Linked DNA regions of Homo sapiens: region 1 is linked to region 2. The links come from fine-mapping of genetic effects on gene expression. A gene starts in region 2. The other region holds a variant in brackets. All regions are shown on one strand. Distances are from middle to middle.

Region 1 (4,501 bases), 49 kb after region 2:
GTCTCACCGTGTTGCCCAGGCTGGTCTTGAACTCCTGACCTCGTGATCTGCCCACCTCTGCCTCCTGAAGTGCTGGGATGACAGGCGTGAGCCCCCGCGCCCGGCCGGCATTCCTCTTTATGGCCGAGGAACCCTCCATGGTGTGGCTCGATCACATTTAGTTTATCTGTGGTTCCGTTCACGGAGCTGGGGCTTGTTCCCGTTCTCAGCTGTCACGAAGAATGTGCTGTGAACACTCATGTGCATGTCTCTGCGTCTTCGCGTCTCTTACGGTGCAGAGGAATCGCTGGACTCTATGGTAACTCTGTGTTTACCGTTTTGAGGAACTGCCAGACTGTTAGTCACCAGAGCCGGAGGTTCCCACCAGCAGCGTGCGGGGGCTCTGATCACTCCACATTCTCTCCAGCTCACTCCCCTGTGCCACTTTGACCTTGCCATCCTAGTGGGGAGAGGTGGTAGCTCATTGAGGTTTTCATCTGCGTTCCCCTGACAGCTAACAGTGTTGAGTGCCTTTGCGTGGCCGAGTGGCCATTTGTGCATCTTCTTTGGAGAAATGTCCGATCAAATCCTTCCCCATTTTTAGGCCGAGGTGGGACGATGGCTTGAGCCCAGGAGTTTGAGACCAGCCCGGGCAACAGAGTGGAACCCCACCTCCATTAAAACAAATTAAAAGTATACATATGCATGTAAAAGTAATTTTAAAAACCCTTACCCATTTTTATTTATTTTTTATTTTTACCTTCCTTTTTTTGCAGAGATAGGGTCTTGCTCTTTTTCCCAAGCTGGAGTGCAGTGGTGTAACCATAGCTCATAGCCTTGACCTCTTGGGCTCAAGGGATCCTCCCGCCTCGGCCTCCCAAAGTGCTGGGATTACAGGTGTGAGCCGCTGTGTCCAGTGGAGACATGGTCTTGTTCTGCCGCCCAGGCTGGAGTTCAGTGGTGCGACCATAGCCCACTGCGACCTCAAACTCCCAGGTTGAGGCCATCTTCCCACCTCGGCCTCCCTAGTAGCTGGGACTACAGGTGTGCGCCATCACACCTGGCTAATTTTTTTTTTTTTTTTTTTGAGAGACAGGGTCTCACTATGTTGCCCAGGCTGGTCTTGAACTCCTGGGCTCAAGGGGTCCTCCCACCTCAGCTTCCCAAAGTGCTGGGACTACAGATGTGAGCCCCTGTCCCCGGCTGGCCCTTGTTAATTTTTTCAACTTTAGAACCATTTCTAGGTAAAAAAATATAATAAATTCTGTTGCTGTTTTTTGGCAATTATTATAAAAAACATGTAGACTCCCATAAGGAGACATTTTTCTACCTCCCTGTGTCTCGGGTCGAGGCTCTCGTCCTCGGGAGCACACGCCAGTTTTCCCTTGGAGACCTGGGACATTTCTCATCCAGCCACTCAGGTGATTTGTCCTGTTGCTGTTGGTGACAGGATCTCTCCTTGTATTTGAGTTTTCTATGGAAAAGCCATTGGTTTTCGAATTTTAAATTGGTGCCAGCCTCTTGTTGCTTGTGATTTCTCCAGCTGCTCTTCTGGGCCCTCCCTGTTTACTGCCATGTGATCCTCGGAGCAGGGTGATGTCAGGGGACTTCAGTCTGGCTGGGCCTGGCTGCGGCCTCAGGCGAGTGGTGTTCAGGAGCTTGAAGGTGCAAACAGCAGCTGCCTTGGGGGCTTACAGCATAGCAAGCAGAACCTCTCCCATGCCCTCGGGGCTGGCGTGGGGTGTGGCGGCCCCTCCTGCTGCTCAAGGCTCACCATACCTGGCTGGCGGCAGGGTCATTGCCAGCGTCCACCCTCAGGGCCTTTGCGCCTGCCAGGAGCACAGTGTGCGTGACAGCCTCCTGGAGCACGAGCCTCCTGGAACGACAGCCTCCTGCAGCACCTCCCCTCCTTCACGGCGCCGTTTCCTTCTCCCTCAGCCTGTTTCGTAAACATGTTCTGGGTCCCTGCAGTGTGTCCCTGCAGAGTCCCCTCAGAGACTCTGTCCTAGCCACATCTGGGTCTCTCGCTCACCAGCCCATCTCCAGGCCCCCGTGTCTGGCGCCTGTTGGCTCTTTGCTAAATGTGAGCTGGGGAGCTGGGTGAACGAGGAAGCCCTCGCTCTCTGGGGCAGAGATGGGGGTCACAGGATGCAGCCAGCTCTCTCCCACGGGACACCCGGTGTGGGTGGACTTGGGGGTTGAAACGGTGGGGCAAACCTCAGACCCATCCTCAAAAGGGGCCTGGCCCCTGGGCCCCCTTTGCCGGGACCCCGTCGTTAGGGACGCTGGCTCCTTCCCTGTCCCAGGGGAGGGTCGATCACTCAGAAATGGTGTCCCTGGGGCAGGAGGAGGTGGCGTTCC[C/T]GTCCTGGTGCTGGTGGAGCCCTCAGAGCCTTGGGTCTGCGGGTCACTGTGGTGACGGCCCCAAGGGCAGCTGGCACCTCCTAGGCTGCCCCTGGGACCCCAGGCCTCTGACCCGGCCCCTCCTCTCTTGCAGTTCATGGCCTCCCACGGGAACGACGCCGCGAGAGCCAGGTTTGAGTCCAAAGTACCCTCCTTCTACTACCGGCCCACGCCCTCCGACTGCCAGTGAGTACAAAGGGGCCTTGTCAGGGCCATGGTCAAGTGCTGGGTGGCTCCGAGATGGCCCCGGGAGGACCCGGCAGGGTGGGGAGTTGGGTGCCGCCCACAGGGTCGGGGAGAAGCCAGCCGCAGCTGCGTCCCCCAGACCCCGAGGTGCCGCCTGTGTCTGCTGGCCACCACCGGGCTTTGGTTCTGGGGCGGGGGGCGCTGGGGTGGGGCTGGGAAGGTCATTGTGCATCAGTAGCTACAGCCCACCCAGGTTCGCTGAGGCCTTGGGGGTCTCGGGTGGATCTGAGGGGCCCTCCCAGGTGCTCCTGGCGGTCTGGGAGGGGAACGGGAGGGGCGGCTGTTGTTTCGGGGCCTGCCCTGGCTCCTCAGGGCGGGAGCGGACGTGGGTACCGGTGGCCGGTTGGGGAAGCCTGAGACCCAGTCCTCTGAGCATCCTGGGATCGGGAGGTTGTGGAGAGAGGGAATGAGGCCTGCTCGGTATCACATCAGCCGCCTTCACCAACACCCGCCCCTCCAAGCCTCAGTCTCCCCATCTGCCCGGACGGTGGGAATGAGAGGTGACAACCACACAGGGCCCAGCCTGACTGTTCGCACCGACCCCCTCGTACCTGTCACAGGGGAAAGACGTGTTGGCCCACTGGGTGCCCTCCCGGCCCCCCATGCTTCCTGCCCTGGTTCAATCCCAGCCTCACTGGGCACCGCCCTCCGTTGACTCACTCCGTGAACCCACTCAGCAGAGGGCCCACCCCGCAGAGATACCCCGAGCACGAGCTGGGTGCAGGGTTTGGGTGTGAGCCAACAGTGCCGCAGGAAAGCGGCGGGCGCCTGGCCTCCCAGCCCATGAGGGGCCCACGTGCCGTTGCTGGCTCTGCCCTGACTCGGGGGCTGAGACAGCCTGGGCTCTGCCTGCCCAGGAGCTGCTGGTGGGGACTGCAGTGACCAGGGGGTCTTCCCCAGCATCCGGGGCCCTGTTTGGGGTCTGTGCCCCCTGCAGTGAGCTCCATGAAGGGGCAGTGGGATCAGGGGTCCTCACTGGATCCGAAGGCCCCTGGAAGGCGGGTGGGGGTTGGGGGATAGGGTGGAGGGGAGGCCGGAGGGAAGAGGGAGGAGGGAGAGGGGAGGAAGGACGGACTTCCCGGCTGCAACCCTACACACCATCCTGGGCCTTTTTTTTTTTTTTTTTTTTTTAAATATAGAGACGGGGTCTCCCTACATTGCCCAGGCTGGTTGCAAATTCCTGGGCTCAAGCGATCCTCCTGCCTCAGCCTCCCAAAGTGCTGGGATTGCAGCATGAACCGGCCCTCCCGGGGTCTTCGGGGAGCAGGGGCTGGAGGTGTGTTCAGGCCACGAGCGACTCAGTTTCTTTGGCTGCATGTTGATTTGTTATTGGGGTCACGAGGCCCCCGTCCAGGTGCTTGGCAGGCGTTTTCTTGATGAGCCTCCCGTGAGCCTGGAGACAGGTCCAGCTGCAATCCCCACATCGCCACTGAGAAGGCCGAGGCTGGCGACTCAGCCCCGTGCATGCACCTCTCCCTTCCCACCCGGGCAGGCCTGGCGCCCTGGCCCCCCGTACTCTCATTCTGAGGCCCCAGGTGCCAGCTGCTGTCTCCCCCTGAGCCCTCACAGGGGAACCCTGCCCTGGCCGTGCCCCGGGCTCTCGGTATGAATCATGGAGCCCCAGCACAGCTATTTTTAAGACATTATTTTATCACCCCGCCCCCAGCTGCTCTGTGGCCTGGGTCACTGTCTCCAAGTTCCTCCCACTCCCTGGCTGTTCTGAGTCGGGACCGGGGGCTGACATGGGTGCGGGGGGCTGGGGGTGCTCGTGGACTCAGGGGCTGCTGCTGTTGGGTCCTGGGTGAGGAGACTCCCAGGGCTGACACCCACTATCTGGGGTGGGGTGTGAATCCCTGTATGAGCCGTGGATGCTGGG
Region 2 (4,237 bases):
CCCACTGCCCTGCGGTTCAGAAACATTCAGTGCCAGACTCGCGGCTCAGCTCTGGGCACACAGAGCAGAGTCCGACCTTGGGCGCAGGAATCTAATGGTGTGCGTTGCAGAGGGGCGGGCTCACCAGGGCCCAGCAAGGGGGAGAGCTGGAAGCCTCATGGGGAGGGGACGCCTGGGCCAGGCTTGAAGAAGGGCAGGCCCCGGGGTGGGGGCTGTTGGGCCGCCTTGACCAAGCCCTTGTCTGCAAACAACCCCTGGGAAGTTGCAGGAACTGGCTCCTAAGCAACAGTGGGTTCAGGTGTCACCAGGGTCCAGAGCGGGGGGCCAGGCAGCGAACTCGGTGTTGCTGGGGACCCACTGTGCTTACCACGAAGGCCTGGCCAGTGATTGTGAAATGGGTGGGATGGATGAGTGAGTGGAGGCTGGAGCTTGGGCCGCCCATGGTGCTCTAAACGGGCCAGTGTTCGACTTCCTCATGGCCAGGGCATGTGGGTACAGGTTCAGGGCTGGGAGAGACTCCGCGGGTGGACGCTGGGGTCTTCACTGAGCCCTTTCCCACGACTGCTGTTGCCATGACAACATCGACACGCAAAGGCCGGGCCTTACCGCTTACAGTACACTTTCATTCTGCCCTAGGTTGAGCTGTAACTACCCTCCACCCCCATTCGTATGGTGAAGCCACTAGGACCTTAGGATGTGACCTTTGCTTTGGAAATAGGTGCCAGGTGCGGCGGCTCACGCCTGTCATCCCAGCCCTTTGGGAGGCTGAAGTGGGCGGATCACTTAAGGTCAGGAGTTCGAGACCAGCCTGGGCAACATGGTGAAACCCCGTCTCTACGAAAAGTACAAAAAATTAGCCGGGTGTGGTGGCGCATGCCTGTAATCCCAGCTACTCTGGAGGCTGAGGCAGGAGAATCTCTTGAACTCGGGAAGTGGAGGTTGCGGTGAGCCGAGATCGTACCACTGCACGCCCGTCTAGGTTACAAAGTGAGACTCTGTGTTGAAAAAAAATATATTAGCTTAGCTGGGTGTGTTGGTGGCGCCTGTAATCCCAGCTACTCGGGAGGCTGAGGCAGGAGAATTGCTTTAACCTGGGAGGTGGAGGTTGCAATGAGCCAGGATCGAGCCACTGTACTCCAGCCTGGGCAACAAGAGAGAGACTCCGTTTTAAAAAACAAAACAAAGAAATAGGGTTGCTGCTGATATAATTAGTTAAGATGAAGTTATTGGGACGGCCCCTAACCCAACATGACTGCTATCCTTATAAAAAGAGGAAATTTAGGTTGGGCATGGTGGCTCATGCCTATAATCCCGGCATTTAGGGAGGCTGAGGCAGGAGGATTGCCTGAGCCCAGGAGTTAAGGACCAGCCTGGGCAACATAGGGAGACTCCATCTCTACGAAAAATAGAAAAATTAGCCTGGTGTGGTGGTGTGTGCCTGTGGTCGCAGCTACTCAGGAGGCTGGGGTGAGAGGATCGCTGAGCCCAGGAGGTCGAGGCTGCAGTGAGTCGTGATCATGCCACTGCACTCTAGTCTGGGCAACAGAGCAATACCCTGTCTCAAATAAATAAATAAAAATAGTAAATTTGGACATGCGCAGGACACCATGGGAACGTAGGGGCCGAGACCAGGTGGTGCTTCTGCAAGCCAAGGAACCTCACAGGCTGGCGGCCCCCAGAAGCTGGGAGGCTGGGACTGTCCCCAGGGCCCCCACTCTGCCCACTGCTTGGACTCCAGACCCCAGGACTGAGAGCACATTCCTGTTGTTGAAGCTGCTCGGTGGTGTCACCTGGCTCCAGCAGCCGCAGGCAGCGAGTCCACAGGCTCTCCTGTCCCTCCTGTGCCGCCTTCCTCCCCGGATGGGCCCCGTGATGAGGTCTCTGTGCGATGGGGAAACCGAGGCCCCAGCAGACACCTGGGATGCAGAGACGCCGGCACCGCTATGTGTCCTCGGGCAATTCGCTGAACCTTTCTGGGCCTCGGTTTCTCACCAATTCCAAAAGCTGATTCTGCTACCGACTGCTGTGAGGGTCCCAGGGGACGGGAAAGCCCGGGCAGCGCCCACCGGGGCTCAGGAGCTTGCTGACTCCGAGGGGGTGGGGCCGGGCCTGGGCAAGGGGTGGGGCCGGGCCTGGGCAAGGGGCGGGGACGGGGCCTGCTCGACGTGCTCGGCGCTCCCGGGGTGCCTGCTCGGCGCTCCGCCGGCCGCCCTGCGTACGCTCGCAAGGCGCTCGCAGACTCCGGAGTCGCCAACATGTCGACCGCCATGAATTTCGGGACCAAGAGCTTCCAGCCGCGGCCCCCGGACAAGGGCAGCTTCCCGCTGGATCACTTAGGTGAGCGGCGGAAGGTCGGCGGGCAGGGGTCTGCGATGGGGGGTCTGGGTCGCGGCCCAGCGCGGAGCCCTATGGGGTGCCGGCATCTAGCGCGGTGCAGGCGGGGAAACTGAGGCACGGCGGCCCGCCCCTCCGCCCCACCCAGCCCTGGGTCACTGCTGCGGCATGGACCCTGCAGGTGGGAGCTGGCAGGACCGTGGCCCCCGTGACGAGGGCAGCGACACCGACTCCTTGCGTCAGGCTTCCGGGTCTCCGGCTCCGCCCTGACTCACCCGGCGGGCTGTCTGTGCCCCGGGTTTGCAGAGCGGGGCATTCGGCGGCCACGAAGCCCGCAGCTGCAGCCGAGGCTTAGACGGTGCCTAGCGATGTCTGCTGCAAAGCTCAAAAGTGCTGCTGATCTCCCAGTGCTTCTGGCCGTATTCCGGTGGGGTTGCCTCCGTGGACATGAAGGCTTCGAAAAAGGATCTGTGGGCCGGGCGCGGTGGCTCATGCCTGTGATCCCAGCCCTTTGGGAGGCCGAGGTGGGCGGATCATTTAAGATCAGGAGTTCGAGACCAGCCTGCCCAACATGGGGAAACCCCGTCTCTACTAAAAATACAAAAATTAGTTGGGTGTGATGTGGCTCGCCTGTAGTCCCAGCTACTCGGGAGGCTGAGGCAGGAGAATCGCTTGAACCGGGAGACGGAGGTTGCAGTGAGCCGAGATCGGGCCACTGCACTGCAGCTTGGGCGACAGAGTGAGACAACGTCTCAAAAAAAAAAAGAAAGAAAAGAAAAGAAAAACGATCTGTGAATTACTGTTTCTTTCCCAACATTTTATTGTGACATTTTCAAATAGCAAAAATGAAAGAATTTTTACCCTGAACTCTCCTGTGACCATCACCTACATTGCACCTTAACCTCGTACTGGGCTGACTTTACCTCGTTGTGGGTTTTTTCCATTGTTGTTTTCAGCATGTTTATGAAGGAAACAAGTTTGGGTTTGATTGTTTTTGTTTTGAGACACGGTCTCACTCTGTTGCTTAGGCTGGAGTGCAGTGGTGCAATCATAGCTCACTGAAGCCTCGGCCTCCTTCCTTTCTGGACTCAGGGGAGTCTCCCGTCTCATCCTCTAGAGTAGCTGGGACTATAGGTGTGCAGCGCCACACCCAGCTAATTTTTTTTTTTTTTTTTTTTTTAGAGATGGGGTTTCCCCATGTTGCCCAGGCTGGATTATTTATTTATTTATTTTTGAAATGGACTCTCACTGTGTCGCCCAGGCTGGAGTGCAGTGGTGTGATCTCGACTCACTGCAACCTCCTCCTCCCGGGTTCAAGCGATTCTCCTGTCTCAGCCTCTAGAGTAGCTGGGACTATAGGTGTGCAACACCACACCCAGCTAATTATTATTGTTTTTTTATTTTTTATTTTAAAGATGGAGTTTCCCCATGTTGACCAGGCTGGATCATTTATTTATTTATTTTTGAAATGGAGTCTCACTCTGTCACCCAGGCTGGAGTGCAGTGGTGTGATCTCGACTCGCTGCAACCTCCGCTTCCTGGGTTCAAGCAATTCTCCTGCCTCAGCCTCCCGAGTAGCTGGGACTACAGACACCCGCCACCATGCCCGGCTAATTTTTGTATTTTTAATAGAGATGGGGTTTCACCAAGTTGGCCGAGCTGGTCTTGAACTCCTGACCTCAGGTGATCCGCCCACCTCTGCCTCCCAAAGTGCTAGGATTACAGGCGTGAGCCACCGTGCCCAGCCTGGATTATTTTTAGGAGACAAGGTCTTGATCTGTTGCCCAGGCTGGAGTGCAGTGGTGTGATCAAGCTCACTGCAGCCTCGAAATCCTTTGCTCAAGCGATCTTCCTGCCTCAGCCTCCTGAGTAGCTGGAACCACAGACGTGCGCCACACCTAGC

Evidence for each region. PIP is the estimated chance that this variant, and not a neighbour inherited with it, causes the effect. A credible set is the group of variants that fine-mapping cannot tell apart.
Region 1: its variant is the best candidate, but not a certain one, in a credible set for the expression of COX19 in lung (TOPMed, PIP 0.65).

What each region holds. Positions count from the first base shown.
Region 1 is chr7:924,617-929,117 of GRCh38, reverse strand. It overlaps ADAP1 (ArfGAP with dual PH domains 1), which reads left to right. Exons shown (of 11, transcript NM_006869.4): 3 at 2,474-2,565. Among named protein-coding and RNA genes, the nearest start is that of ADAP1, 28 kb to the left of the region's middle. RefSeq lists enhancers at 152-241, 497-1,083, 4,260-4,369 and a silencer at 3,268-3,417. The variant C/T (reference allele first, on the strand shown) is at 2,341.
Region 2 is chr7:973,528-977,764 of GRCh38, reverse strand. COX19 (cytochrome c oxidase assembly factor COX19) reads left to right here and starts at 2,216. Exons shown (of 3, transcript NM_001031617.3): 1 at 2,216-2,337. The coding sequence starts at 2,256. RefSeq lists enhancers at 1,230-2,110, 2,742-2,811, 2,111-2,993 and silencers at 2,042-2,321, 2,342-2,501.